Homo sapiens: one gene and its partners. The protein of the gene in region 4 purifies or fractionates together with the protein of the main gene of each other region. This does not show direct contact. Each region holds a gene or a part of one and is shown on either strand. Other genes may lie near its edges.

Region 1 (6,185 bases), about 65 Mb from region 4:
GCGATTCTTCTGCCTCAGCCTCCTGAGTAGCTGGGATTACAGGCGTGCACCACCACACCCAGCTAATTTTTGTATTTTTAGTAGAGATGGGGTTTCACCATGTTGGTCTGGCTGGTCTTGAACTCCTGATCTCGTAATCTGCCAGCCTCGGCCTCCCAAAGTGCTGGGATTACAGGCATGAGCCACTGCGTCTGGCCAGTAGCTATGATTTTTTTTTTATATCCTAAACTCTTTACTGTATCATTTGGTTACATATGTTGAGACTCTCCAGTGTGTTAGAGACAAAAACCCTGAAACCGCCACCATTGATACTTCTATCCCTTCTGATTTGGGGACTCTCAGAAGACTATACGTCCATTTTTCCCCTACCTTACCACCAGTCTGATTAATGGGCAGTGATTCTGGCTTCCCTAGTATGCCTTCTAGGTGTCAAACACACACCCAATGGCAACTTTGATTTGAGAATTAGAAACTGCTAAGATTTGAACTCTTGATTATCTGTTGTAAAGGTTCTCTAGTAACTATTCTTAATGGAAAATGATACAGTTCTCTAAATAATTTGGATTATTTGACAGTTAAGCATTCTTCCCAAATACCTTTCACTAATCTAAGTACATTTCTGTGACCATCTGTCATGATCAAATTCCTCTCCCCACCCACCCTCTAGAAACACACTCAAAATAGTCCAAGTGCACCGAGTTAGGATTTTTTATGAAAATATTCTCTTTAAGCCTTTTTCTCCTTTCATTCTCCTTCCCCCAACATAGACAACCACTCTATCGTGTTTGGTATGGATTGTTTTATTTGTGTATGTTCCCATAAAACATTATTGGAGGGTTTTATGTATTTTTATGTTTTTAATTATTATACATATCATGTATATTCATAGTTTTAAAAATGGTACAGAAGAATCTACATTGGAAAGTCAAAGTTGCCCACCCTGACAATGCCCAGGTCTGCTAGCACAAATGTCACTATTGTGTTTATAGGTAGTTTTTCAAGTACTGGATACAAATGTACGTATACTTGAAATACATAGATATTTTCATATACTCTCACATACAATCCACATTATATTAAATGTACTTCTCTTGCCTTGCATTAACCTTTAAAATTTTTTTAATTTAATTTAATTATAGATTCAAAGGAGGTTACAAAAACGTACTAGGAAGTCCTAGTATTTACTGCAAGGAAACCAGAGGTCTCTTCACCCAGTTTCCCCCAATGGTAACATCCTGCATAACCTCAGAACAGTGTCAAAACCTGGAAATAGACGTTGATACAATCCACAGATCTTAATCAGATTTCACCAGTTTTACACACACTTGTGTGTATCTGTATAGTTCTTTGTGCATATATTTTTTAAATGCCTAAGTGGCATTGTGCTACATGTTACTGTATTTCTGCCTTCACTGCTTATCCACACAGTTCTACATATAGCTAGTTTGTTGTTTCAGCTCCTGAAGAGAATCTAGTATGGGTCTTTCACCTATAACATCCTTGTTTCCTAGTAGTAGACATTTAACCAACTTCTAACTTCCTACCTCAGTAGATAATACTGCAGTGACTGTCCTCACTTATGTCCTCTTGTGGATTTGTGTCAGAATTTCACCCAGATACATCTGCAAGAGTTGGGTTGCTGGGACATTTGTATATTTGGCTTTCCAGAATGTCTGTGTAAGTCCCCATGCCCACAGCCATAGCATGAAGGTATAATTGTTTAAGATATAATCCTTGGATTTAAGAACTAGAAGGTTTATATCATGGAAAACCATTGATTGGACTGTGGAAGAAAATATTAAAAAAAAAAAACCTCTCCGACTCATAAGATATTTTTTAATTAAATTCAAGCTACAGATAATTTATAATTCCTGAATGGTATACTATCTTATAATTTCAGATCCTTTTTTCACAATCTCATTCTCTTTCCTTTTCCCATCTCCCCAAGTAGCATTTCAGAAAACACAGATTAGTAAACACAGTTTCCATTGACTTATTTTTGAGAAGAAGGCTCTTGGCAACAATATCTAAAGTTTTGAGGACATCACTTCATTTCAGGCCAGGTTGATAGTCCTAGAAAATGAAAGAAATAAGGGCAAGTAATAATTTGGCAAAAAAAAAGGGTCTTGTATAGTAAATAATCACTGTAGTTGAGATTTAGACTACCCTCCCATCATTCATCCTGCCAGTTATCATGTGCTGTGGTCACCTACACAGCTAGGAGGTTGGTGGCTCACCTGCTGCTGTAGCCAGTAACTGCTCAATGAAAAGGGAATTTTAGGCAAATTGTCACAAGACTGGCTGGATGTCATAGTTAGGCTCCTGTGAAATAAACTGATTTGTATAAAGATACATTGCTGTTCTCTGTCAGTGAACTCAGTTATTTGAAAGATACGTTTGTGATTGTATTTGTCTTACTCATTTTTGAAAACACACAGTTTGCAAAACATCTTATTTGCATTCACCGAAGTAATACCTTGTGGGCAGGATAGTCAAATGGACTATTTAAGTACCTATTAGGTATCAGCAGCTCACCTTTTTTATTCAGCTGAGCCCCCTTGGTGAGATACTTGTATTATCCTGGTTATGTTATTTAGAATCTTATAATACCTTTTATGAAATGGGTGTAGGAAAGCTATATTGACTGGTCTCAGGAGCCAGTCCATGGGACAGTATTTTTTAATTTAGTAAATTTAGTTTCCATGTCAGCATAGAATCATGGCACTTTTGTTAATTGGTTTCTATTGAGTACTTTATTTAAATTTCTTCAGTGAAAACATAGCCTTAATTTGATTTGTTAATATAAAATTATCAGCTGGAGGTAACTCCTACCAGATATTTAAGAAAACTAAATTTACTACTAGGTGTGCTCAAAATCAACAATCAGTGGGTTGTAGTGAGAAACAAGAAGCTATTAAGACTTGTAAATATGAAAATAACCCACCACAGAAAAAATTGTAAGTATATGAAGTGATGGATTTGTAACTTAGCCTGATTTAATCATTTTATGTTGTAAACTTAGATTAAAACATCACATTGTACCTCATAAATATATACAATTACTATTTGTCAATTAAATTTAAGATAAATAAGAATTTTAAAACATGAATTATTGAATGGCTAAGTGTTAGTACAGTATATGTACTTCATTAGCATATAGTATGGAACAGGATAACTTGGGTGCCAAGGTCAGAAGTTAATCTGGGAATGAGAAATATTCCTGCAGTATGGCCCCACCTATTGCAGTAACAGCTACCAAGCTGTGAGTTGTAAGTAAGTATTCACTGCTGACCAGTGAATCTCCTGCCCTTTCACTTTCCAGACGCCCTTGCACTTGGCAGTGATCACTAAGCAGGAAGATGTGGTGGAGGATTTGCTGAGGGCTGGGGCCGACCTGAGCCTTCTGGACCGCTTGGGTAACTCTGTTTTGCACCTAGCTGCCAAAGAAGGACATGATAAAGTTCTCAGTATCTTACTCAAGCACAAAAAGGCAGCACTACTTCTTGACCACCCCAACGGGGACGGTAAGAGACAATCACACATCATTGGTGTAACTTTCTCCACCTTCTAAATATCTACTAGGTATTTGATAAACGTGTGTTATTTGATTTGCACCCAAAAGTGCTTTCCTTAGTCACCTGGAGTTCATCATCTCTTTTGGGCATTTCTGTTGCTCACCAAAGCTAATTTTTTTAAAGATGATTTGGAATAGTTAGTAGGAGGAGAAAGCAGAGGCCTGAGTAAAGATTCATCTTGAAGTACACAAAGCGTCGTTTATTCAGAGAATGTTTATTTATGTTCATGTCTCCTGAGAACATAATAGGAGACTGTGGGTCTTCAAAGCAGAACAATAGACTTATAGTATCTTTACTGTCCCTCCCCATGATTCAGTTTTTGCCATTTCCTTCAGCTTCACAAGGGCCATCTTGTGAGTTAGCCATCCCATCCTGTGACTGTCCCTTTGCTTGGACTCTAGGTCTGAATGCCATTCATCTAGCCATGATGAGCAATAGCCTGCCATGTTTGCTGCTGCTGGTGGCCGCTGGGGCTGACGTCAATGCTCAGGAGCAGAAGTCCGGGCGCACAGCACTGCACCTGGCTGTGGAGCACGACAACATCTCATTGGCAGGCTGCCTGCTCCTGGAGGTGAAGGGCACACTTATTTGCTTTTGCATTAAATTTCTGAGGGAGATTTAAGGAAATCTTTTCAAAGAAGGAAGTCAGTAGCTGCTGTTCTCCCTTACAATCAGCTCTATTTGTTTAACATTTATGGAGGGCTTCAGAGTACCACCTTTAGACATTCCCCCAACCCCCTTGCTTGGCATCTCTAACTGGGGATTTCTTCAATGACAGAGCCAGCCCAAAGTAGCAATTGGGCTAGTAATAGGACCCAAGGAGCCATGCACACTGGGAGGTGGGGACAAAAGGGCAAAAGAACCTTCCACTAACGCTTTCTTGTGTGGGCTGGATTGTAGGGTGATGCCCATGTGGACAGTACTACCTACGATGGAACCACACCCCTGCATATAGCAGCTGGGAGAGGGTCCACCAGGCTGGCAGCTCTTCTCAAAGCAGCAGGTAAGATGGTGATCTGGCGGTCATTAATGAAAAATGTTACCAGGAATGCAAACCCAACTTCAATAGAGCAGTCATGTTGCCTTCTTTAAGCCACAGACCTACTGCTGAAAAACAAGGGTAAATAAAAATTATATGGCAAATCACATTTTATCTGCCATAAGGCACTGTTTGGACTAGTAATCTTGGGCTTTACCCTGATAGTCATTTTAGTTTTTACTTTCTGATTCATCTGTTTGTTTGGGGTTTGATTGTTTAGATTGACTCCCATGACAAAGGGTCTTTTCAAAGTAGAGTTTGATTCCTTATAGAATTCTGAGTGGTATTAGTCTCAGATCATATCAGAAGGCCCCAGAAGAAAAAGATTATTGGTATAAGAAATCATTTAAAGACTTCATTTTGAAAGAAATATCTCTTAGAAATTGAAGTGTAGGAAAAAGAAAATGGGCCATGTATTAAGACCCATTATGTGGAAGGCACTAAAAATGGCTAGCACTTATTGACCTTTCTGTGTACCAGGCACTGTGATATGCACTTTATGTGCACAGTCTCATTTAATGCCCAATCACCCCTTGTGACAAATACCATTATTCCCCATCTTAGAGTCAAGGAAACAGACTAGAGAGACTACCAGATCCCACTTCAGGGTTCCAGTAAGTGACAGAGCTATGAATCACACTTCGGCAGTGTGAACTTCAAGACTTTATTCTCTGTACTATGTTTCTCTCTCCTATTTTGCTCATAGGTTTGCAGATGTTATTCCATTTAATTCTCTAGTCCTGTGAAGTATAGAAAATTATCCATGCTGATCTTTGAATCTCCAGTGCCTTGCATATTTAGAACCTCAAAATATGTGTAATGAAATTGGCATCTGAAGCCTGCCCTGACATATCTGATATACTTTAGAGGCTTTTTTTTTTTTTAACTTAAAAGGTAAATGCTTCATAAATTCAAGAAAACAAAGCAAAAGACATAGGAACTTTTTCTTTGGGACACCATATTTTTCTTTTCTCTTTTGTTAAATAGAACTTTTTCTTGAACAAGAAACTCTGATTGCAGTGGGTATTAATAGTTTTAGAAGACACTGATTAATTAAATGCCTTCCAACAAGAAGCTATAACCAGCCAGACGTGATGGCTCACACCTGTAAACTCAGCACTTTGAGAGGCTGAGGTGGGAGGGTCACTTGCACTAGGAGTGTGAGACCAACCAGGTTAACATTGTAAGACCTCATCTCCATTAAAAAATTTAAAAAGTAGCCAGGCATGGTGGCATGCGCCTATAGTCGCAGCTAGTTTGGAGGCCGAGGTAGAAGTATCACTTGAGCCTGTGAGTTCAAGGGTGCAGTGAGCTACAGTTTCACCACTGCACTCCAGCCTGAGCTATAGAATAAGAATAAGACCCTGTCTCAAAAAAAAAAAAGAAAAAGAAAGAAACTATAACCCTTTTAAAAATGCTTTATATTGAATTCTCAGAATCCCATGAAAGGAAAAGCAAGTAACAGTTTCTCTGATATATAAATGAAGAAACTCAGATGAAAAACCAAGTCCTAATCTTAATGTCGTGGAAAAGGTCAGTTAAGTCCGAGTGTGGTGGCTCACACCTGTAAT
Region 2 (8,245 bases), on a different chromosome or scaffold from region 4:
ATTACTGAGCGCCTGCCGTGGGCTGGCATGGTCCTGGGCACAGCTCCGCTTGCAGGAAGCCCACTTTCTCCTGGGGAGTCAAAGCACAAACAAAGCCAAGTCAGTACGTAAAGAAGCAGGGGTGATGAGAGATGCGGACCCAGGAGGGGTTCAAGGGGCTGTCCTGGACGCATGACAGGGAAGCATAGCTTCTTAAAGGACTCGGCAGTGCACCATGAGAAGACACGCACCAGGGAGCAGAGAGAAACGCCAGAACCCTCTCGAAGAAGGAGGGATGTGAGGAGGTCAGGATAGTCACCTGTGCTGAGCCATCATGGAGAGTGAGGGCCTGTAAGGGTGGACACAGTATGCAGGAGGGACAAATCTTCCTCACCGGACAGGTGGGGATCCCTGCGGTGCACTAGGGGAATGCACACAGGGGGCACTATGACCTGGCGGCCCACGGGGCACGGGGACGCACCAGGTAGCCTTGGGATCTGCAAGTCCCTCCCGGACCCTGGGGAGTGCCATGACGGCTTCCAGCAGCAGTCACTGTCCTGGGCGCGTCCCGCGCTCTAGCCCAGGTGGGTCCCACAACGGTGTGACCAAGGACGTCCTATGACCACCCCTTGACAGGTAAGGAAACTGAGGCAGGAGAGGCGAAGCAACTCGCCCAAGGAATGGGCTGTGCCGGTAGCTTCTCCAAGGCCTGGTGCGCCCTGGCCTGTGCGCGTGATCCCGGGCGGGGTCTCAGTACGAACAGGGGCTTCGCGATGTGGCCAGCGCGGGCTTATCTCCGTGCCGTGACGACAAGGCTAGAAGCCTGGGCGGCCGCGGTGGATCCTCGTGGCGAGGCGGGGAGGGCGCCGGGCCTCACTGGCCCGCTCGAACCAGGGCTGCGCAGGGCAGAGCCCAAGGGAGAGGGCCGCGCGGCCGCCGTAACGTCGGAGACGACGCCTGGCAGGCGCCAGCAAACGCAGAAGACCCGCGAGGGCGAGGCAGGGAGGGCGCGACGCGACAACGACCACGTGCCCCGCCCGCCCAGGCGCGCGGCCTGCCGGGAGACGCAGTCCAAACCTTTCGGGAGCAGGACTAGGGGTCCCAGAGAGCCTCGCGGCGCGCATGCGAGCCCCGGCCCCCTCTCGCGCAGCCTGCCGGGACTTGTAGTCCAACGCCAGCAGGCTTCCGGGCCCGGAGTGGGCGGTGGGACTCGGGGTCCCAGAGAGCCGTGCGCGGGCCGCGACGCCGAGCACCGCCCTCGCCGTCGCCTCCGGGCTTTCTCCGGTCGCTGCCGCCACCACCGTTGCTTCGCGGGCTGGGAGGCCCGGGGTCCCCGGGCGAACAGAGGCTGCGGGTGGGAGCCTTCGCGGGCGCTGCAGAGCGGGCCGGGGGAGGCCGGGATGGAGCCCCGCGGAGGTGGGCGCGCTGCCGGGCGGGGCGCTTGCGGCGATTGGGGAGGGGGCAGAGGGAGGGGCCCGGGGCGGGGCTCGGTGGCGGGGACACCGGGGCGGGGGCACCGGGAGGAAGCTGCCTTGGAAGAGGTGGGGGCGGCGACGGGAGGGGCGGCGAGCCCCCGGGAGCCTGGGCGTTAGGCCCGGGCGTGGCGGGGCCCCGGCGGCCTGGGGGGTCTCCTGGGCCCCCCCCCACCCATGGAGCCCGCCGCCCCGGAGGTCGGTCTCAGATGACTGAACTGGGCACCGAGCGCCCCTGGTGTCCCTCGCAGTGGACTGACGCCGCAGGGGCGAGCTAGCCGGCTCCGCGCCTCTCCGCGGGATCCAGACGCCTCCTGGGGCTGCTGGCGGAGGGTCTGAGGCGGCGCGGCCATGGCTCACCTCCGGGGATTTGCCAACCAGGTGAGAAGGGTGCAGGTCAGGAAGACTAGCGGCCTCTCACCGAGGGGCTCCAGAGTCTCCTGGGGGTTCAGAGGGGAGCGCCACGCCGGAGCGGGCAGTGGGGTGAGGGAAGGAGCGCGCGTCGTGCGACCAGCGGAGCCGTCCTGAGGTGGGCGCAGGGCGGCCCCGGGGCTCTGCCGTGTGCCTGTGGCGTTTTGCGTGGCAGAAGCTCGCAGGCCTCTAGAAACCGAGCCCCTGGTGGCTCCGCCTGTGCGAGGGCGGTGGAGGTGCGTGAAGAGACACCGGCGCAGGGACGGGGCGCTGCCCCCAGCGCGGGGCGGGAACCTCATGTCAGCATCCGAAGGCAGTGGAAGGTCGGGGGCCACCCTGCGGCCTCGGCCTGGGCCGCGGGTCATTCTGGCCGTGTTGGGCTGGGCAGGGGCTGTAGGGGAGACCCTGGCGGGCGCTGAGGGGCTGAGATTGTGGAGAAGCAGATCTGAGTGGCCGGTGTGCAGGGAAAGCAGAGAACACGTGTGTGCTTTGGCCCAGGGGAGGGTGAAAAGGCTGCTCTGTCAGGACCGTTTAACCCCTGCGACGGGCGGTTGCCCGAACATGAGACTCATCTTTCTTCTTTAAAGAAGTCGTTTCCACTATGGAGCCACCTTTAAGCGTCTGGTGGGACAGCCTCGGAGGGAGCCACTACGGCGAGCCCTTAGCCTGGAATGAGGACCAGCTGCTGGTGCCAAAGGGCTTGCCGGGGAAGGAGGGTGGGGTCAGCCAACCTGGGGCCTGGGGACTTGCATTCTCTACCCCTCCCCACTTTTTTGACTCTGGCCGCTGGGTTTTCTTACATCTTAGCTGTTCGGTTTTATTCTCCTTGATGCCTTGGCTCTACCTAAGGCGTTGGAATCGCCGCTAAAATGTGTGGCCCTCCTTGTTCACTCCTATGTGCTGAATGGAGAGTTGGGCCTGCAGTGGAACAGGAAGGGCGTCTGTTCGCGTAGGGGCAGGAACTGGAGTCAGGGCTGCTTTGGAGGAAACCGGACCAGCCTAGAGACCCGGAACACCATGTGCAGCTGTTGGGCCAGGCAACCTGGACCTGCGTGGTCACAGATGAGACTGGGGCTTGCTGACTGTTGCTGAATTAAGCTAACAGATTTTTGGTTTGCTTTTGGCATTCTGTATCTGGTAACTTACATGACTAAGGTGCTGGGAGAAAAATCTGCCACCAGTTTATTTTACTTTATTTTTATTTTTTTGAGACGGAGTTTCGCTTTTGTTGCCCAGGTTGGAGTGCAATGGTGCAATCTCAGCTCACTGCACCCTCTGCCTCCCAAGTACAAGCGATTCTCCTGTCTTGGCCTCCCAAGTAGCTTGGATTACAGGCATGCGCCACCATGCCCAGCTAATTTTGTATTTTTAGTAGAGACGGAGTTTCACCATGTTGGTCAGGCTGGTCTCAAACTCCTGACCTCAGGTGATCTGCTTGCCCTGGCCTCCCAACGTGCTGGGATTACAGGCATGAGCCACCGCGCTCGGCCACCAGTTTATTTTTAAGAACTGCAGAAATAACTCCTTTGGGTCACAGGATGAGAAATTGGAGCTCCGAGGTGCCCTGTAACTGTGTGCTATTGGTTCTTGGTGCGATCGCACACAGGGAAGGGAGTGCGGGCACATTGGAGAAGGGATTCCAAAGGTAGGAAGCTCCTTTTGTCCTTTTAGGGATCCCTTTGTCCCAGCCTGGATGATGAGAGACTTGACTTCATATAGTGGCAGAAAACCTGAGGGGCTGTGGTTTTCTCCTGAGATGGTTGCCATGGTGTCCTGTGGACCTGTGGGGCAGCCCCTTTGTGGGAGAGTGGGGCGCGTTCCCCCCATAGCCTGTGCTCCTGCCTTAGACTTCTCCCCTCTACCTGGCCAGTTCCTGCCTGGCCCTGGAGGGCCCGAATGGCTGTGGGGTGCCAGAGCACTGTATCACCACTCAGCTATGTGTGCTGGGTCATTCCCCTTGTTTTGTGGGGCAACACTGACAGCAGACACATTGGCAAGTGGAGGCCCCAGACCTGGCAGCCCCAGGGCTAATGTGGAGAACAGGTGTCCACCGCTCGAGTCAGCTGAGTGGCCCGAGTGATCATCCAGGCCACAGCTGCTGCTACATCCAAAAGAGGATTCGCAGCCTCCAGGCCAGGGGCCCACTTACCCTTTCTTCTCCAGGTGGGGGTGGGGATGGCTTGCCTTGGCTTGGCCTGCGATGTCATTGTAGGGCCAGGATCACAGCCAAGAGGGTTCCTGTCACACAGTTTCTGCTTGGGCTGATGAGCCCTGGCTCTGGCTTAGGGGTCCGCTGTGCTCCCCTGCTGTGAAGCAGTAGAGGTCTGAGTGCCCACCCAGGGGTTTCCCTACCGGGGCTGCTGTGATGGAGCAGATTCAGCTCCAGGCCCTGTGTGGAGAGCAGCATGGCCTCAGCAGGGAGCAGGGAGTAGAGCAGGGCGGGAGGACGCGTCATCCAGAGAGGCCTGAAGAGTCGGAGGGGTGGTGGTGCTGGGTAATGCTGCCAGGTCATGGCCCTGCTTTCTCCAGGCCCTCTCTCAGGCCACCTTAGACAGGAGTAGATGGGAGGACACAAGCTCAGGGCACCAACAGACCTCTGGAATCCCCAGGAGGACTCCCTTGGGGTCTTTCCGGGTGCTTGGGCAGGGTTGGGTTGAGGCTGAGGCCAGGCCTACAGGCTAACGGCTCGGTGGAGCAGCGTCCCAGGGCCCCGAGTAAGCGTTGATGGGCTGAGCAAACAGGGAGGATTTGACAAGGTGGCGTTGGGCCTGCTGGAGGAGGAGCAGGCAGAAGAGGGGCTGCTTCTGCAGATCACCTGAGGTCAGGAGTTCGAGACTAGCCTGGCCAACATGGTGAAACCCTGTCTCTACAAAAATTCAAAAAAAAAAAAAATTAACGGGGCATGATGGCGGGTGCCTGTAAGTCCGGCTACTCGGGAGGCTGAGGTGGAAGAATCGCTTGAACCTGGGAGGCGGAGGTTGCAGTGAGCCGAGATCACGCCACTGCACTCCAGCCTGGGCAACAGAGTGAGACTCTATCTCAAAAAAAAAAAGAAAAAGAAGAGGGGCTGCTTCTTAACCTTGTCCTGCACCTGGCATCCAGGACTGGGCTAGGAACGGGTGGTCCTCCACCAGAAATGGAGCAAACAGGGAGGAGGAAACGGAGATGATGCTCTCTATGGCAGGAGGGTGATATTTTAACACTGACTGCTTACCTATGACAGCCAGTGGGCTGATGAGCTTATGCTTTGACATGCACTTGTGGGCCCAGCTACTCAGGAGGCTGAGGAGACCAGCCTGGGCACACAGCGAGACCCCCCATCTCAAAAAAAGATTGCATGTTCTGGGTTGACTTTCCTTTCAGATAGGGGCTGGTTCTCACCTCATCTGTGCCACCCACCCTCAACCCGGAGACAGCTGAGCACCTGTGACTTGTCAGCTTTGAATTTTTCCTGGCTTCTCTTTAGAACACATGGTCAGCAGCAGTGATGGGGCTGGGGGCAGACACAGCTCACCTTGACCGGAATGACCCCAGGCAGTACTCAGCTCTCTCTATCCTGCCGAGTTTCTTGACCTTGGCTTTGGGGACTCCTGGTAGCAGGTGGGCTCAAGGCACCCCCTGCTGTTTCCTCCATGGGTACTGGCTTTAGGACTGGGCTGCTGTACTGATGAGAGAATGAGAAAGGTCACTTTTGACTCGACCAGCTGTCTCAACTGGCCAGACCTTTGGGCTAAGCAAGGGTCTGTGTGTACACTGCAGCTGGCCTGCTCTAGCTGCTGCATGGAGGCCACCTGCACACCCCCGGGCCTTGACAAGCCAGCCTTGCAGGGAAAGGTTAGGTGGCCTCTGGCCCTCCCCTAACTGCCTTTCCTTCCCCAGAGTTCCAGTCACCTCGAGGTCTGGCACTCAAAAAGGGATGTGCAGCGGCATGTTTCAAGGTGGGGGCCTGTGTGCCGCCCCTTCCACCCTCCTGGTTAGGAACCCTGGGAGGTCAGCTAATTGGCAGTTTCACACGGAAGTGTCGCCTCAGGCTGGTGCGATGTCCAGTTGGCTTCAGCCAGCTCCTCCGCTGGGCTTAGGCCTGGGGTGGACCCAGCACACAGGTGTCCAGGGGGTGAGTGTGAGGGCTGTGTGTGGTGTACCCCATCCTTCTTGGTGGGCACGGTCTCCGCAGGCCCAGGAACGTGCAGGGCACCCCCACCCAAGGACCTGTCCTGTCTTCAGTGTTTTTTTTTGTGGCATAATTAGTCGTTTTGCCTTTTTTTTTTTTTTTTTTTTTGAGACGGAGTCTTGCTCTGTCGCCCAGGCTGGAGTGCAGTGGCACGATCTCCGCCTCCTGGGTTCATGATATTATCCTGCCTCAGCCTCCCGAGTAGCTGGGACTGCAGGCGCCCACCACCACACCCGGCTAATTTTTTGTATTTTTTAGTAGAGACGGGGTTTCACCATGTTAGCCAGGGTGGTCTTGATCTCCTGACCTCGTGATCTGCCCGCCTCGGCCTCCCAAAGTGTTGGGATTACAGGCGTGAACCACCGCGCCCAGGCTGTTTTGCCTTTTTATGCTCTGCCACACTAAATTGGCATCAAGACCCTTGATGTTGTTAGGGGAGGGGCCGTGCGTGGTGGCTCACGCCTGTAATCCCAGCACTTTGGGAGGCTGAGATGGGCAGATCACCTGAAGTCAGGAGTTCGAGACCAGCCTGGCCAACATGGTGAAACCTTATCTCTACTAAAAATACAAAAAATTAACTGGGAGTGGTGGTGCATGCCTGTAATTCCAGCTACTTGGGAGGCTGAGGCAGAAGAATCGCTTGAACCCAGGAGGCAGAGGTTGCAGTGAGCCAAGATTGCACCACTACACTCCAGCCTGGGTGACAGAGTGAGAAGCCATCTCAAAAACATTTAAAAAAGGGTCGAGGCTTGAGGACACACCTCTGCTGGCTTCCCCTGGACTCTGGGCCTGGGCCACAGACCCCAGGCACCTTCCACACCACTGGCTCAGAAACTTTTAGGCATTGCTTCTTTAAATCTGAGGACTGTGTGAGGCAGCTTTCTGCATCAAGAAAGCATCAAGTTTCTAACTCCGCGCTGGTGTAGCTGTCAGGAGGACTTATGGAGGGGTGAGGGAAGCCCTTTCTAAATACGTGACTTTCAGGAGTGGAGGAGAACTTGGTTAACACATACTGAGGTTTTTTGTTTTTGATGAGGTTTTTTTTTTTAAATTTTTTATTTTTTTGAGACCTAGTTTCGCTCTTGTTGCCCAGGCTGGAGTGCGATGGTGCGATCTCGGCTCACCGCAACCTCCGCTTCCCTGATTCAAGTGATTCTTCTGTCTTGGACTCTCAAGTAGCTCGGATCACAGGCATACGCAACCTCGCCCGGCTAATTTTTTTTGTATTCAGTAGAGATGGGGTTTTACCATGTTAGTCAGGCTGGTTGCGAACTCCTGACTTCAGGTGATCAACCCGCCTTGGCCTCCCAGAGTGCTGGGATTTCAGGTGTGCACCACCAAGCCTGGCCTGATGAGTTTATTTTTTAGTAATTTCAGATTTATAACAAATTAAGTAAGAGCTCCCAAATCCCCCCTCACCCCCAGGGGCCATTCACCTATTAACATCTGTCACGGGGCTGGCATGTTGTTCGGGTTAGATGAGGCAACCTTCATGCCGTGTCATCACCTAAAGCTCCTGTTTCCAGCAGGGTTCATCGAGTTGGCCTGGCCTCTTTATACTTTCTGGGGACTTTTTCCCTTGCATGGAAAGTTCAGTTTAGGTTTTTTTGTTGTTGTTATTTGTTTGTTTGTTTGTTTTTTTAATGGAGTTTGATTCTTGTTGCCCAGGTTGGAGTGCAATGGTGCGGTCTTGGCTCACTGCAACCTCCGCCTCCCGGGTTCAAGCAATTCTCCTGCCTCAGCCTCCTGAGTAGCTGGGATTACAGGCATGAGCCGCCACGCCCAGATAATTTTTTTGTATTAGAGATGGGGTTTCACCATGCTGGCCAGGCTGGTCTCGAACTCCTGACCTCAAGTGATCCACCTGCCTCGGCCTCCCAAAGTGCTAGAATTACAGGCGTGAGCCACCACGCCCGGCCAAGTTTAGTTTTTGAACAAAAAGGGAGAAAGGAAGAAACCAGAGAAGAATTGAGGTGCGCTCCCTTGGACTCCCCCTTCCCTACAGGTCCCTTCCTCCCCAGCAGGGCAGCCTCTGCCTGTCCCCCGCCTCTTGTGACCGGCGCTGTCTGCCCTCTGTCCCCGCCCTGGCCCCACAGCACTCTCGAGTGGACCCTGAGGAGCTCTTCACCAAGCTCGACCGCATTGGCAAGGGCTCGTTTGGGGAGGTCTACAAGGGCATCGATAACCACACAAAGGAGGTGGTGGCCATCAA
Region 3 (8,245 bases), on a different chromosome or scaffold from region 4:
CTTGCCCTGGCCAGGCCCAGCTGTGGGTGGGGGCCCTTCCCTCCCCACCAAACATGGGGGCTTGGTTTGTGGGCAGGGATGCCTGTCCAGCCTGTGCCAGGACAGTCTCTGCTGGTGTCTCCCCCTGGGGCTCCCCATCACCGGTCTCCCCACCACCACTGGCCCCACAGAATCACTGCAGCCCCCCTCGCCCTGAGCCAGAGCACCCCGGGTCCCGCCAGCCCCTCACACTCCCAGCAAAATGGGCAAGGAGAAGACCCACATCAACATCGTGGTCATCGGCCACGTGGACTCCGGAAAGTCCACCACCACGGGCCACCTCATCTACAAATGCGGAGGTATTGACAAAAGGACCATTGAGAAGTTCGAGAAGGAGGCGGCTGAGGTGAGCTCCCCAGGCTATGGTCTTGGCCCCCTGAGAAGGAACCCCCAACTCCCGTGGTGGCCAGGCTTGGCATCTCCCAGCCCCAGGGCATGGGGCTCAGGTGACCTCCTCCAGGGCAGGAGGGACCCCCGCTGTGGGGCACTCAGGCCTCAGAGGGTCTGGTGGGGCAGCCTCTCTCTTAGGGGGAGCTTGGTGGGGGAGGGGTGGCCATCGAGCTGCCGGACTTGCCCTGTGGTGAGGGAGGTGACCTGGGAGGGTCTGCAGAAGGCTCTGGAACTCTGCCATGTTGAGCTGGGGCTGGAGGGCGCTGGAGCCTTACCCCCTTCCCCCCAGGGCCAAGGCTGGGGCTGGAGATGGTACTGCCCTCACTTGTCCTAGGGCCCTGCCAGGGCACACGCTACTATTAATAGCTGATTGATGGGCAGCCGGCCCGTCTGCTCCATTTTCTTGTGCTGGGCTGTGGAGGGCTGCTGTCCAGGGCAGCCCTGGGGTGGGGGTCCTGGATGAGGTGACCTCCTAGCTGACCTTTTGAAGCGATTTCTCTTTGGTGGCTGAGACGGTGGTGGGGAGCGGTCATGAGACGGGGTCTGCTCTCTGATCCCCATCCCCCACCCAGGACTCTGGGGAGAAGCCCACTCCTGGGAGGGCCTGTGGGAGCTCTCACCTGGATGATGAGGGCGGAGGCCAGGGCCCAAGGTGGGGGCACTCGCTGTCCTGGGCTGAGCCTCTGCCCTGGCGGGGTTGGGGGTGCTCTGAGCTGCACCCCTGAGTTTGGGCTGCATCACCCTTTACCTGGCCTTGTCAGGAGGAGGCGGGGGTTTCAGAGGGCCGCTGTTTCAGGCCCCAGCTGGGTCCCATCTGGGTCTGCTCCAGACTGGGCAGCCTCCTGGAGGGCAGAGTCCTGTCTGTGCGAGGCCCTGGCGAGGAGTTCTGCCCAGCTGGGTAGTGACCGCCGCTGCTGCCCTGACTGAAGCCCGTCCCCTTCTGTGGGGGTCTCACTGGCCGAGGCCCCCCAGCTTCCCGTGTCCGGCAGAGCGAGGAAGGGGAGGAGAAGCCTCAGAGGGATGGGGAGGCTGGAGCAGCGGGAAGGAGCTGCGTGGCCAGGCCCTCCTCCTGACCTCATTCAGTTTTCCTTTCTCCTTACCTTAAAAAAACACACACACACAGAGGGTTATTTATCTGACAGCCCCAAACACGGTGGTATTATTGGCCTCTGGTTGAGGAAGGGATCTGGGGGCGTCCGCAGCTTCAGATAAAGGGGAGCCCTCGCCCGGGAGGGGTTTATCCCATCTGGCGGCTTCGCTCGTAGAGCGAGCGACTCCCAGGCCCTTGCGCCACCTGCTGGTGGACCTGCGTAGCCGCGCCCATTTCGGAGCAGGTGCGGAGGCCGGCCCTGGGGGGCAGGGTCTGGGTGTGGGGTCCCGACGGAGGGGGCCGGCGTCCCAGGACCCCGACGGAGAGCAAGGGGGTGCTGGAGCCCATCTCCCGCCTCTCGCGGCCACTCTGCTGTAACAAGCAGCTCGCACCACCAGGGACTCCTGGGTCCCGGGTCCCGCCCTCAGCCGTGACCCTCACCCGCTCCAGATGGGGAAGGGATCCTTCAAGTATGCCTGGGTGCTGGACAAGCTGAAGGCGGAGCGTGAGCGCGGCATCACCATCGACATCTCCCTCTGGAAGTTCGAGACCACCAAGTACTACATCACCATCATCGATGCCCCCGGCCACCGCGACTTCATCAAGAACATGATCACGGGTACATCCCAGGTGAGCAGGGCACAGCAGGCGGGGCTGGGGGAGAGGCCGCTGCACCCTTCAAGGGACACTGGGGGCCCCTGGGGTCACTGGGATGGTAGGGTCTCCTGTGCTTCCTGTGAGGGCAGGGGACCCCTCACCTGGGCCACCCTCACCCAGTCTGGCTCAGAGCCCCCCTAAGGATGAATCCAGTGCTCTGGCATCTGAACCAGTGCCTGTGAAGGCATCCAGCCAGTGTCAGAGTCCCCAGATAGATGGGGGCAGATGGGGACGTGGACACACCTTCATACATGGAGGGGTTGGAGGCCAGGATGGGGAGAGTGAGCAGTGGGCAGAGGTGCCACCCGCCAGGTGTAGACTGTATGACATTTCAGGGCACTCACAGAGACGCACGGACACCCCAGACACAGCACCCTGCAGACAGCAGGACACATGCCACCACCTCCAAACTGCTTTGATAACTGTGACTTCTATCCGTCCTCAAGTGAGGAACAGGAGCAGATAGGCTGAGTGACTTGTCCAGGGACACACAGCCCACTGGTGGTGGAGCCAGGGCTGAACCTCGGTCCCCTGACCCAGGGCCTGGCGATGAGCCCCCATGCTGCCCTTGAAGTGGGGACCCCCATGCCTCCCTCCCCAAGGCCCCAGTGGGCTGCTCAGGCCCCAGCCCGCTGCCTGGAGAGGCCTGGAAGTGAGGTGGGGCCAGGCTCGCTCTGTCCCCTGCCAGGCAGGCGGGGCAGGGCTCACTGTGTCCCCTGCCGGGCAGGCGGACTGCGCAGTGCTGATCGTGGCGGCGGGCGTGGGCGAGTTCGAGGCGGGCATCTCCAAGAATGGGCAGACGCGGGAGCATGCCCTGCTGGCCTACACGCTGGGTGTGAAGCAGCTCATCGTGGGCGTGAACAAAATGGACTCCACAGAGCCGGCCTACAGCGAGAAGCGCTACGACGAGATCGTCAAGGAAGTCAGCGCCTACATCAAGAAGATCGGCTACAACCCGGCCACCGTGCCCTTTGTGCCCATCTCCGGCTGGCACGGTGACAACATGCTGGAGCCCTCCCCCAACGTGAGTGGCGGCTAGGGCGGGGCGGGCCACGGGAGCTGGCTGGACCCCCTGGCCCAGAGCGAGGCACCGGCAGGTGGCACGGGGAGGTCGAGGGCCTGTCCCCGGGAAATGCAGGTTCCCCTCGAAACCTGCTGGGTTTCCCTAACTGGCTCAGGGCCCGGCGGGGAGCCCCATGCCCCTCAGCACCGGGCTTTGCTCCTACACTCAGCCTCCCACGCGGCTGGCCGGGGCCAGGGCCCATCTACGATGTCAACACAGCAGGGGCAGCGGCCTCCAGCACCAGGCCCATGTGCTTGGTCTCCAGAGCCCTGCCATGGGGGCGGTCGGTTTCATCTCTGCCAGGCCATTGTCCTGGTCCTGGACACCGTGCAGGGGCTTTGGGCTGGGCCGTGGGGGCCTCCTTGGCTGCCTCCCCTGGGATCTTGGAGCAGGGTTGGGCTTTGGGAAGTGTGCATGCTTCTGGGCTTGCTGGGATGGCCAAGGGTTGGCTCTTGGCCGGTCACCTGGGAGCTCAACGTGCGAACAGTCTGTAGCCCAGGGACTCTGCCTTGGCTGGAGGTGACGCGTGGAGACACTTGCAGAACCTGAGACTGTTCCCAGGGTTCTCCAAGCCAGAGGAGACCCCAGAATGGCCACCACTAGGCTCTGCCAGCACTGTCGCTGCCCACAGTGAGGGTGCAGGTGTGGAGTCTAGAGACAGCAGGGAGACAGACCAGCAGCACTGAGCCTGGAGCTGAGGTCTGGGGACAGAACTGGGAGGGACTCCCCCAGCTCCGCCTCCATCTCACGAGGCTCGGTGTTGTTTACCTGTGATGGCGTTTTCCTCATGGGGTATCATGTGGCGAACGCCACTCTCCCCTCCCCAGGGAGGCCTCCAGCCATCAGGGACCCTGCACTCCCCTCTGGCCTGAGCTGCTAGGTGGCTCGTGCTTACACAGGCCCTGGGGGGCTGGGGCACTGTGCTGCCGGCCCCCTCCCCTGCTCCCTGTTTGTGGCAGGTGGCCCAGAGGGAGGCTTCATGGGATGGGAGTGGGGGCCACACTAGGAGAAGCTCCGGACAAGGCTGGGCCAAGCTCGGAGGCAGCACGGTGTCCAGAAGCTAGGGTGGGGCGAGGCTCCTCCAGCTCTGTCCCTGGCCTGGCCCTTGGCCAGACTCAGCATCCTCCTAGTCAAGTCATCTGCCCTGCCTGGAGCTGATGGTCAGGGGCCCGGGGTTTCGGGGACTTGGGGCTGGACTGGGGATTTGTTCACAGTGTCAGCAACTCCTGAGCAGCCTGGGCTGGGAAGGGTGCTTTCCCTCTTTGTCCTCCTCCTTTTAAGAGGGATCTCCTTCCCAGAGTCCCTGTGATGCTGGGGCTATGGGCTGGGGAGGAGCAGGGTGGGGAAATTCCTCATCTCAAAGGGCACGAGGCAAGTTTAGCCTGAACAGCAGTACTCCTGGAAGCACCCTGGGGAGGCCTGAGGGTGGGGAGGCCACCAATGTCTCTTAACGGATTGATTTTCTCCCTTTGGTCCAGATGCCGTGGTTCAAGGGCTGGAAGGTGGAGCGTAAGGAGGGCAACGCAAGCGGCGTGTCCCTGCTGGAGGCCCTGGACACCATCCTGCCCCCCACGCGCCCCACGGACAAGCCCCTGCGCCTGCCGCTGCAGGACGTGTACAAGATTGGCGGTGAGCAAGGGCGCTGTGCTGGAGCTCCTGCCTGGCCAGCTCTGCCTGCCCTAGACCAGGGGCCCCTACAAGGCATCTCAAGACTGGGCTGTCTCCAATCTCTCCCCTTACCACACACTTTCTGTGGGACAGTCCATCCCACATCCATCCATCCATCCACCCACCTCCCCACCCATCCATCCTCTGTCCATCCATCCACCCATCCATCTATCCACCTCTCCATCCATCTATCTATCCATCCATCCATCCATCGATCCATCCATCTCCCCACCCATCCATCCTTCACTCCATCCATCCATCCATCCATTGTCCCATCCATCCTTCTCTCTATCGAACCATCCCTCCATCTCTCCATCTATCCACCTCCCCACCCATCCATCCTTCTGTCCATCAATCCATCCATCCATCCATCCATCCACCTCTCCATCCATCCATCCATCTCCCCACCCATCCATCCTTCTCTCTATCCATCCATCCATCCATCCATCCATTGATTGTCCCACCCATCCATCCTTCTCTCTATCCCTCCATCCATCCATCCATGCATCCATCCATCCATTGTCCCACCCATCCATCCTTCTCTCTATCCATCCATCCATCCTTCCATCCATCCATCCACCTCCCCACCCATCCATCCTTCTGTCCATCCATCCATCCATCCATCTCTCCATCCATCCATCCATCCATCCATTGTCTCAACCATCCATCCTTCTCTCTATCCATCCATCCATCCATCCATCCATCTACCCACCCATCCATCCTTCTCTCTATCCATCCATCTATTGACCCACCCATCCATCCTTCTATCTATCCATCCATCCATTCATCCACTCACCCACCTACCCACCCATCCATCCTTCTGTACATCCATCCATCCATCCATCCACCCACCTACCTATCCATCCATCCTTCCATCCATCCATTTATCCATCCATCCATCCATCCATCTATCCACCCACCTACCCACCCATACATCCATCCATCCACCTCCCCATCCATCCACTTCCCCATCCATCCATCCATCCATCCATCTCCCCATCCACCCATCCACCTCTCTATCCATCCATCTCCCCACCCAGCCATCCTTCCCTCCATCATCCATCCATCCATCTCATCCATCCGTTCATCTCCTCATCCATCCATCCATCCATCCATCCATCCATCCATCCATCCATCCACCTCCCCATCCGTCCGTCCATCCATCCATCCATCCATCTATCCCCCCATCCATCCATCCATCCATCCATCCATCCATCCATCTATCCATCCACCTCCCCATCCATCCATTCATCCACCCACCTTCCTACCCATCCATCCTTCTGTCCATCCACTCATCTACCTCCTCATCCATCCATCCATCCATCCATCCACCAATCCATCCATCCATCTCCCTACTCATCCATCTCCCCACCCATCCTTCTGTCCATCCACCTCCCCATCCATCTACCACCCCATTCATACATCCATCCATCCATCCACCCACCTCCCCATCCATCCGTCCATCCATCCATCCATCCCACCAAGAAGAGAAACCATAAACAAATCTGAGACCCTAGAGAAGGGCACTGATAGGAGACCCCCAGCCAGTGGGCTGCAGCCAAAGATGTTGCAGGCATCTCTGTGTGCACTGTGGGGGCATCATGCTCACCCCAGCACAGAGCACAGCCACTGGCCTCAGTGAAGTTGGCTGGAGGCTACAACAGGCCTCCCTCACAGCCCTGGGAGGTGAGGGTGGAGACCCAGTAGCCTGGGGGGGGACAAGACCCCCATGTGGCAGCTGCACAATTGGTTTAAGTAGATCCATGAGAAATGCCAGGGACGCTCATGTGCCGCTGTGCCTGTGCTGCATCTGGCTGAGAGGCCCCTTTAGTGATAGAGACCTGCAGCATCCAAGTGGGGCCCAGAGAGCCTGCAGGGAGCAGGGAGCAGGGCCTGCAGGGAGCAGGGAGCAGGGCCACCAGGCCCCAGGCAGAAGCAGTCAGTCGCCCCGCCCACACTCACAGGGAGGAGTCCTCAGACAAAGGAGGGGTCCCATAGTGCCTCCTTTGAGGGAAAGTGCTCTCCGGGGGCAAGGATGGGACCCCAGGTTCAGACAGCCCCTCTCTGCCCATCCTCCCGCTTCTCTGTCCCTGTGGCTTTTCCGTGGGTTCCTGGGAGCTCTGCTGCTCAGCCTCTTATTTCCCCAGCTGGGTGGGAGAGCCCCCACTTCCCTTGGAATCTCTGTGTCTGCCCTTGTCCCTGGCCTCCCTTCCCCTGCACTCCGCCCATGTGGCCCCAACCCCCAGGCCTGTCGGGGGGATCCAGTCCCAGGCTTTGTTGGTTTCCAGGCTCTGTCCCCGAATATCCTGCCCCAGCATCCCCTCGGGCCCCACCTTCCCCTCACACCCCCTCCCCTCTGCAGGCATTGGCACGGTGCCCGTGGGCCGGGTGGAGACCGGCATCCTGCGGCCGGGCATGGTGGTGACCTTTGCGCCAGTGAACATCACCACTGAGGTGAAGTCAGTGGAGATGCACCACGAGGCTCTGAGCGAAGCTCTGCCCGGCGACAACGTCGGCTTCAATGTGAAGAACGTGTCGGTGAAGGACATCCGGCGGGGCAACGTGTGTGGGGACAGCAAGTCTGACCCGCCGCAGGAGGCTGCTCAGTTCACCTCCCAGGTGGGGGGCTGCGCTGGGTCCAGGGGGCTGGCGCCTGCTGGACAGCAGCAGGACTGTCCTGGGTGAGGCTGCTGTCGGCAGGTGGCCTGGCGTGGGGAGAAAACCAGACCCTCAGGCTGGGCGCAGTGGTTCACGCCTGTAATCCCAGCACTTTGAGAGGCCGAGGCGGGCAGATCACGAGGTCAAGAGATCAAGTCCATCCTGGTCAACATGGTGAAACCCCGTCTCTACTAAAAATACAAAAATTAGCCAGGCGTGGTGGCACGTGCCTGTAGTCCCAGCTATCAGGAAGCTGAGGCAGGAGAATCGCTTGAACCTGGGAGGCGGAGGTTGCAGTGAGCCGAGATTGCGCCACTGCACTCCAGCCTGCGTGACAGAGCGAGACTTCGTCTCAAAAGAAAAAAAAAAAAAGAAAAGGGACCCGCATACCACCGAGGGGGCCACCGAGCACTCAACGAGGGGATCAATCAGTTCTGGGAGGGGTGCAGGCCCTGTGGCTCCCAGCCTGTGTGCAATCGCGGGTCTGTCTTCCACGCTGCACTGCTGGGATGCCCAGCCTTTGAGGTCCTACATTCGTCCTAGAAAAACGCTTTTGTTAACTTACTGTCTGAGACATCTCTGTCATACTTTTATTCTCTACAGTCTTCATTGCCCCTCTTTGCTGGCCTCTTCATATGATTTATTTATTTTTTTTTTGAGACGGAGTCTCGCTCTGTTGC
Region 4 (8,245 bases):
TAATGCTATGGTTCTTGCAGACTCATAGAGGTATCACCTTGGTGGTCTTGGATAAGATCTGAAAGAGTTCACTGGATTACCGGGCAGACTCTTGTTCCCCAAACAAAAGTTTCTCTCTCTGTACTGAGCCACCTGAAGCTGGGGATAGGGTGACACAAGCACCCTTGTGGCCATGATCACTAGGACTGTGCTGGGTCAGACCTGAAGCCAACACAGCACTGGATCTTACCCAGGGCCCTCTGTAACCACTAGCTAGCTAGCTCCAATGTTTGCTCAAGGCCCTAAGGCTCTACAATCAACAGGTGCAAAGCCAGCCAGGCTTGTGTCCTTCCCTTCAGGGTGACAAGATACCCCAGGCCCTAAGTGGGAGCTAGGGACTGAAGTCAAAATCCTTAGAGATCTACCTGGTGCTCTATTCTACTGGGGCTGAGCTGTCACTCAAACCATAAGACAAGGCCATTTCCATTCTTCCCTCCCCTTTTCCCAGGCAAAGGATCCTCTTCCTATCACCATTACTACCACAGGCCCACAGAGAGTATTGCCAGGCTACTGCCGATGTTCACTTAAGGCCCAAGGGCTCCTCAGACAGTTTATAGTAAGTTCTGCCAGGCCTAGGACACATCCTTCAGGGCAGTGGACTTGCCTGTGGTCAAGTGCAAATCCAGAAATGCCATCCAAGAGCCAAGGCCTTGAATTAGGGACTCCAAGAGCTCGCTTGGTGCTCTACCCCACTGTGGCTGAGCTGGTACCTAAAGTGCAAGACAAAGTCCACTTTACTTTTCCCTCTGCTTTTCTCAAGTAGAAGTAGTCTCTCCCCATAGCCACCACAGCTAGGAATGTGCTGGGTCTCACCTGAAACCAGCACATCTCAGAGTCTCACCCAAGGCCCATAGCGTACTACCTGGGTATTCCTGCTGGTTATTCAGGGCCCAAGGGCTCTCCACTCAGCAGGTGATGGGTCTTGCCAGGACTTGGTCCTTCCTTTCAAGGAAGTGCAGTCCCTTCTGGCCCAGGGTGTGTCTATAAATGTCATCTAGGAGCTGGGGCCTGGAATGGGGGCCTCATGACTCTGCCTGGTGCCCTATGCTAATGTGGCTGAGCTGGTATCCTATGGTGTAAGACAAAGTCCTCTTTACTCTTCCCTGTCTTTTCCTCAAGCACAAGGAAGGGGTCACTTTCATTGCTGTGAGCTGTGCTGCCTGGGTTTTGGGACACGTGACACAGGTTCTCCCTTAGCCACTCTGGTGTCTCAGTAGATCAGGTGCCCCCCCAGGTCCACTGGCTCTGGCCCCAGCACAGTACTGATATCTTGCCTAGGAACCACAGTTCTTGTGGCCTAGGCTACCCTTCAAGTGTATTAGGATTGCAGAGCACTTTAGTCCATGGTGGTGCGGCTTGCCAAAACTCAAGTTCCAACAACTGGAATATATAATTTCCCTCTGGCTAGATCTGGTCCAAATGCTCCCTCTGTGTGTGGGTAGGCTGGGGGGTCGTGGCTTAGCTGATTTCAGCCTGGTTTTGCTTTCTGCTCTGATAGGGCAGCACTGAGTTCAAACGCAAAGTCCCCAAATCACTGTACTCTCCCTCCCCCAAACACACAGATGCTCTCTCCACGACATGCAGCCACTGCCAAGGAATGGGCAGCGGCAGTTCAAGATTGTCTTTCCTACTACCCTCTTTAGTGCCTCTTTCAGCAATATGAAGTTAAAACCAGGTACACTGATTGTGTACCTGATTTTTGGTTCTTATAAAGGTGCTTGTTGGTGTAGATGATAGTTGTTAAATTTGGTGTTCCTGTGGGGCAATGAAGTGAACATCAGTGGAGGCTTCTATCTGGCCATCTTGTTCTGCCCTTCCCCAAGAGCATTCTCTTATATAACCCCAGTACAATGTTCAAAAGCAGGTAATTCACATCAATTTAATACGATTACCTAATCTACAGACCTTATTCAGATTTTACCAATTATGTCAATAACGACCTTTTAGCAAGAAGGACATGCAGTGCATCGGCTGTCATGTCTCTTAAATCTCCTTGAATTTGGAAGCATTCTTCTGTCTTTCTTTGCTTTTTCATAACATTACATTATTTTAAGAGTACAGGCCAGTTGCTTTGCAGACTATCCCTCGTTGTTTCAACTCAGAGTATGCTCTTTTGTCAGGAAATCACAGAAGTGAGGCTAAGTTCTCAGTGCATCCTATCAGGAGCCACATGCCATTGATTAGTCTCATTATGGCACTATTACCTTTGATTACTTGGTTAAGGCGCTGTATGCCGGGTTTCTCCAACGTAAGGATAATATTTTGTCCTTAATCATATGGGGGGGAGCTACTTTAAGACTAAATATCCTGTCCTCCTCAAAATTTCACCCACTAGTCCTACCATCCATTGATACTTCTTACTGACATCAATTATTATTATGATGGCTATCAAATGGTTTTTCTATTATTATGATGGCTATCAAATGATTTTTCTAGTTCCAGTATTTCTCGTATGTTTGTTAGCTGGTTTCCTACTTGTAAGGTAGAGTGTTCCCTTTCCCTTTATGTATCTTAGTGTGGACTCATAAGTCCTTGTTTTATTCAATTGGCTACAAATGCTGTAGATTAGTAATTATTTTAATATTCCAGTTGTTCCACATTTGGCCAGTAAAACTTCTACAAGTGGATTCCTGTGTCCTTTTAAAATGTCCCTGTCATTCTTCAAAGCTATCACTATTTAAAGGCAGCTTCCAGATGGGTTGAGTCTTTTCCTATATGCCCTTGACTTCCTAATGAATACTCAGTTAATTTCTCTGCCTGGCTGGAGAACTCCTGGGCTTCCCTGGACTTCGCCCTTCCCCTACCTCCATTGCTACCCTCCCAGCAAGGAGGCTTCACCAATGACTGACATGGCATTAGCATGGCCTTCTTTTTTTATTGTTTGTTTGTTTTTGTTTTTGTTTTTTTTTTTTTGAGACGGAATCTCGCTCTGTCGCCCAGGCTGGAGTGCAGTGGTGCGATCTCGGCTCACTGCAAGCTCCGCCTCCCAGGTTCACGCCATTCTCCTGCCTCAGCCTCCCGAGTAGCTGGGACTACAGGCGCCCACCACCACGCCCAGCTAATTTTTTTTTATTTTTAGTGGAGACGGGGTTTCACCGTATTAGCCAGGATGGTCTCGATCTCCTGACCTCGTGATAGCCTGGCCTTGTTTAAACACAAAACAGAGTCAGCCCCCAACACAGGGCTGCAGAAGCAGGCGGCAGCAGCATTGGGTGGACACAGCCATCCTAATGGTGTTTGTTTTTCCCCTGTGTAAACTAAGAAGTGGTTGTGAAGGATTTTCCCTTTGTTGCCTGTTGCTTTTTTATGCTCCAAAGAGGAAGCAAATTTTGATTTTGCTCAGTAATAAAGGGTACCCAACAACTGAATTCTTACCTTTAAGCTAGCTGTTGCCAAAAGGGAGGCAAGGAAGACAGCTGATAGACTGCTCATTTTGAACCCAATCTTACGTCAAAAGAGCATATTTTTTTCATTGCTGTGTGTCACATGCTAGACCCGGAGCATTTCCTTGTTGCCCCTGGGCTTAGGAGAAGTCCTTGCTAAATGCAAGATGTAGAAGTGGGAGTGACATATGAAAAAAGAAATGAATTAAATTTGATATGACACATCATATAAGGAAGAATAATTGTAGACACAGGCATGCAGGGGTTGGGTGTGAGTACATTAGTCCCCACCCTTTTCGTCAGCAGTCACACAACCTTGGACATTAGAGCCTGTCCGTCTGATCTAGAGAAGGAATGTTGCTGGGGAAGGAAAACTCAGGGCGAGGTGAGAGAGGACAGAACCTCTAACCAGGAAGAGGCTGTCCCCGCCAAGCTCCGGAGAGGCGCGGAAGCATGACCCTCAGGTATGGGACCAGGTCTATAGGAAACCCATGTGGTGTGCCCTAATGGGAGGCAAGCCGGGGAGGACCCAAACTGGAAACCTGATTCTGAAAGAGGAAAACCACCACAACATCCTTTGTAATTGTGCAGCTTGGAAGAACAGTATAGATCCTGTGGTTTTCCTGGGGAAGGAGGGGAGCCTAAAAGCCGCAAATGATGTATATTTCCTTCAGAAGCAGGGAAGGGGCAGTTTTCGAGTACGGCTGTTAAATCTCAGCACTCACTTCATTCGGTGCAGGCTGCTCCTGTGGTCTTGGCTATAGCAGCAGAAGGCGGGGATGGAGGGTGCCCCAGGGTCAATCTTGGTCAGCCTCCGAGGAGCTGGGAGTGCAAGGTGTCACTCTGGATGTGCCTGCCTGCTTTTCCTCGCCTTCTTGCCCTCCTTCGCCTTTCCTCCCTCTTTTCTTTCCTCCTTTCTTTCGCCTTCCCCTGTACACCTCTTGAATTCACCATCATAAAGTTGACCTGAGATGTTTCAATGAGTAATGTTTTATGATTGCTTCAGTTACATTATTACAATCCAGTCTGCCTTCCTTGTTTCTCAAACAGTTCTAAGCTCTTTTCTCCTTTTCTTTGACTTGTTTTTTTTTTTTTTTTTACTACCTATCCTCCTGACTAGTTGTTGTTGTTTGTTGGTTGGTTTGCTTTTAAAGAGTCCAGGATAAACAAAGTATTGCAGGCATGAAAAGGGTCAGGATTTCAGAGCGAATTGTGGAGGGGGAGGGTCAGGAGGGGAGGGGAGAGGAGGGGAGAGGAGAGGGGAGGGTGGAGGAGAGGTATTGAGGGAGGGGAGGGGAGAGGAGAGGTATTGAGGGAGGGGAGGGGAGAGGAGAGGTATTGAGGGAGGGGAGGGGAGAGGAGAGGTGTTGAGGGAGAGGAGGGGAGATCAGAGGTGTTGAGGGAGAGGAGGGGAGAGGAGAGGTGTTGAGGGAGGGGAGGGGAGAGGAGAGGTGTTGAGGGAGGGGAGGGGAGAGGAGAGGTGTTGAGGGAGGGGAGGGTAGAGGAGAGGTATTGAGGGAGGGGAGGGGAGAGGAGAGGTGTTGAGGGAGGGGAGGGTAGAGGAGAGGTATTGAGGGAGGGGAGGGGAGAGGAGAAATGTTGAGGGAGGGGAGGGGAGAGGAGAGGTGTTGAGGAAGGAGAGGGGAGAGGAGAGGTGTTGAGGGAGGGGAGGGGAGAGGAGAGGTGTTGAGGAAGGAGAGGGGTGAGGAGAGGTGTTGAGGGAGGGGAGGAGGTGCACGTGCTTCTTCTCGCCTGTCCTATTTATCCAGCTCATCTATGAATTATCAGCAGAAAAGGAAAGTAAAGGAGGAGTAGAGGCTGGGAATAAAATCCTGGGCTTTAGAAATGGGGTAGTTTAAGAGTATTCTGAAAGGTACAATGTTACACATGTGTACACAGTTCCATAGCAAAAGCGATTTTTCTGTCTACGGGACTGTTGTTGTACTTGGGGTTTTCTATCTTTCAATTGGTGTCACAGTTGATAGAAATATACCATGTAGCCCTTATTCCAGAAACAAGTCCTACTTGACATTGTTAATACTCTTGTTTGTATGCATAGGTTCTGGCAACTAGATTATATCTTTCTTGGATACTAGACCTCCATCTTTTTCTTTTTGGGGGGTGTGTTTTAATATGCTGTATCCAAATGGGGTGGTTAAGACACCCCTGGTCTATGTTTATTATGAATGTTTGCTCATATGACCCCCAGCAACACTATATAGTAGGAATATTATTATCCCCATCTACAGGCCAAGTGACTGAGGCCCAAAGTCCCACAGTAGCAGGGTTTTCTGTCTCCTGAGCCCACCCTCATAACACCTGGGCGACACGGCTGGCACAAACTGGAAATGTCTTGATTGGTTGCAGACACACAACAGGTTCACTGATAGTGCTCTCGTTTTTAATCCATAGCCATTAAATCATTCATTCATTCCACATTTATTGACTGCCTGCTCTGTACCAGGTGCTGTCCTAAGTGCTGAGAATTAGACTTGAAGAAGGGTGGAGCACGGTAAGGAAAGAGGGTGGCAAGAGATGCACGGCTGGTCCGAGGGACTCTTCTACATTCCATGAGTCCTCCCAGGAAGAGTTGGAAGGACAAGGGGTTTGGTCCTCAAGCATGAAGTGATTTGGGGATGTTACTAGTTTTCTGTGCTGCTGCAGCAAATTACTACGAACTTAGAGGTTTAAAAAAATGGAAGCAGCCGGGCATGGTGGCTCACGCCTGTAATCCCAGCACTTTCAGAGGCCAAGGTGGATGGATCACCTGAGGTCAGGAGTTCAAGACCAGCCTGGCCAGCATGGTGAAACCTCATCTCTACTAAAAATATAAAAGTTAGCTGGGCGTGTTGGCAGGCACCTGTAATCCCAGCTACTGGGGAGGCTGAGGCAGGAGAATCACTTGAACCAGGGAGGCAGAGGTTGCAGCGAGCCGAGATTGTGCCATTGCACTCCAGCCTGGGCAACAGAGTGAGGCTCTGTCTCAAAAAAACAAACAAAACAAAACAAAACAATGGAAGTTTATTCTCTCCCAGTTCTAGAGACCAGAAGTCTGAAATTGGTATCAGTGGGCTTGATCCAGGGGTGGGTATCAGGGATCAAGGTGTCACCGGGGCCACACTCTTTCCAGAGGCTCCAGGGGTGAATCTGTTCCTTCCCTCTTCCAGCTTGGGGGGCTGCCAGTACTCTTGGTTTGTGACCTCCTTGCTCCAATCTCTGCCTTTTTGGTCACATTGCCTCTTCCTCTTCTGTCTATAATCAAATGTCCCTCCACCTCCTTCTCATAAGCATTTATTTAATTGTATTTAGAGTCCACCCAGATAAACTAGGCAAATTGTACCATCTGAAAATCCTACACTTAATCACATCTGCAAATACCTTTAATTTGGGGGCTGGGGTGGCATATAAGGTATTATTTATAGGTTCCAGGGATTAGGATGTGGATATCTTTGGGGGCCATTTTTCAGCCTACCATAGGGAGTTATTTGTGGATTTTATTTTTTTAATGTAAATCTAGTCCCTTTTAACTAAGCAACCAATCTGTACTTCTTAAAAAGCACCAGTCATATTCACTGTGGACAAAAGCTTATGAAGCAGCATCCCTGGAAATTCACCTATGATTGAAAGAAGGAAGGAGGGACAACATGGGAGACAGAGACACAGCCAGCAATGAATGATGTCTCTTTCTGGTGCATGTGCTTCATGGAGACAGGGAGACTGGGGATGCAGATTCTGTTTTGGCTTGTCTTTTTAAAGGCTGTAGGCCCGTCACAGTGGCTCATGCCTGTAATCCCAGACCTTTGAGAGGCCAAGGCAGGCAGATCACTTGAGGTCAGGAGTTTGAGACCAGCATGGCCAACGTGGCAAAACCCTGTCTCTACTAAAAATACAAAGATTAGCCAGGCATGGTGGCACCCGCCTGTAAACCCAGCTACTTGGGAGGCTGAGGCAGGAGAATCGCTTGAACCTGGGAGGCAGAGGTTGCAGTGAGCCGAGATTGCGCCACTGCACTCCAGCCTGGGCGACAGAGTGAGACTGTGTCTCAAAAAAAAATAATAAATAAAAATAAAGGCTGTAGATATTAGAAATGAATAATATCTAAGAGATGCTTCCATACTCATTTTTAGGATGTTCTGAGGAAGGAAGAGGCCAACATGGTCAGTTTTATATGAAGAGAAGATTTTGTTCCAAAGGAAATGATGGGGAAAAGCCCAGCTTGGGGAGGGGTCAGGGAACAGTGGGCAAGTGGGAAATGAGTCCACCTTCTGCCAGGAAGCCCAAGGGGGCATGTCTTTGAGCTGCAAAAGAACAGGTCCACAAATCATAGCTGAGATTGGCCCAGCGGTAGGAAAAGCAACACAGAATCAATTTAGTGTGGTTGAAGCTTGTGCGATGACTCGGGCTATCACGCTCCTCAGGGCCTGAATCATGGGACACAATGGATCCGCCAGCTTATTCCGGCATCCTTTAACTCTTGAGGAGCAAATGCCCTGGCAAGGAATCCGTCAGAATCTCCTTCCCCTCCTGCTGCTGCGTGCAGTGGGCCGTGCCCTGGTGAGGTTCCTGTGTCCTCTGTAGAAGGTAACAGATTAGAAAAGCAGAAGTCCCTTCTCTGTCTAGCATCCTTCCACCTTCTTCTCCTCATCTGCAAAATGGGGATGAAACACATAACCCCAGGGTTGGGAGAAAGGTCTGACACAGAGGCAAGTGTCAGTGAACGTTTGAGAACTCTGAAGCGGTGATGGAAATGGGGTATTCCTGGTAACCAGCACCCTCTCTGACCCACGTGGTAGTTATCCTTTTGCCAAAATGTGTGACTCTCT

Evidence for each region.
Region 1: the proteins of PGCKA1 (region 4) and NFKB1 purify together in Homo sapiens (tandem affinity purification; one large-scale study listed by IntAct). This does not show direct contact.
Region 2: the proteins of PGCKA1 (region 4) and STK25 purify together in Homo sapiens (affinity purification with mass spectrometry; 3 studies listed by BioGRID and IntAct, with this or other methods). This does not show direct contact.
Region 3: the proteins of PGCKA1 (region 4) and EEF1A2 purify together in Homo sapiens (affinity purification with mass spectrometry; 3 studies listed by BioGRID and IntAct, with this or other methods). This does not show direct contact.

The regions. Positions count from the first base shown.
Region 1 is NC_000004.12:102,603,174-102,609,358, forward strand, and holds part of NFKB1 (nuclear factor NF-kappa-B p105 subunit), read left to right. Parts: intron 1-3,322; coding exon 3,323-3,524; intron 3,525-3,976; coding exon 3,977-4,146; intron 4,147-4,475; coding exon 4,476-4,578; intron 4,579-6,185.
Region 2 is NC_000002.12:241,501,593-241,509,837, reverse strand, and holds the start of STK25 (serine/threonine-protein kinase 25), read left to right. Parts: upstream 1-1,253; 5' UTR 1,254-1,395; intron 1,396-1,492; exon of another isoform or gene 1,493-1,702; 5' UTR 1,703-1,802; coding exon 1,803-1,832; intron 1,833-8,129; coding exon 8,130-8,245. UniProt on the Homo sapiens protein: Oxidant stress-activated serine/threonine kinase that may play a role in the response to environmental stress.
Region 3 is NC_000020.11:63,489,760-63,498,004, reverse strand, and holds part of EEF1A2 (elongation factor 1-alpha 2), read left to right. Parts: intron 1-170; 5' UTR 171-241; coding exon 242-385; intron 386-1,969; coding exon 1,970-2,149; intron 2,150-2,903; coding exon 2,904-3,200; intron 3,201-4,717; coding exon 4,718-4,868; intron 4,869-7,269; coding exon 7,270-7,526; intron 7,527-8,245. UniProt on the Homo sapiens protein: Translation elongation factor that catalyzes the GTP-dependent binding of aminoacyl-tRNA (aa-tRNA) to the A-site of ribosomes during the elongation phase of protein synthesis.
Region 4 is NC_000004.12:37,580,503-37,588,747, forward strand, and holds part of PGCKA1 (PDCD10 and GCKIII kinases-associated protein 1), read left to right. Parts: intron 1-3,730; exon of another isoform or gene 3,731-3,886; intron 3,887-5,801; exon of another isoform or gene 5,802-8,245. UniProt on the Homo sapiens protein: Acts as a tumor suppressor. Acts as a tumor suppressor for colorectal cancer cell proliferation by targeting KEAP1/USP17/ELK1/CDK6 axis.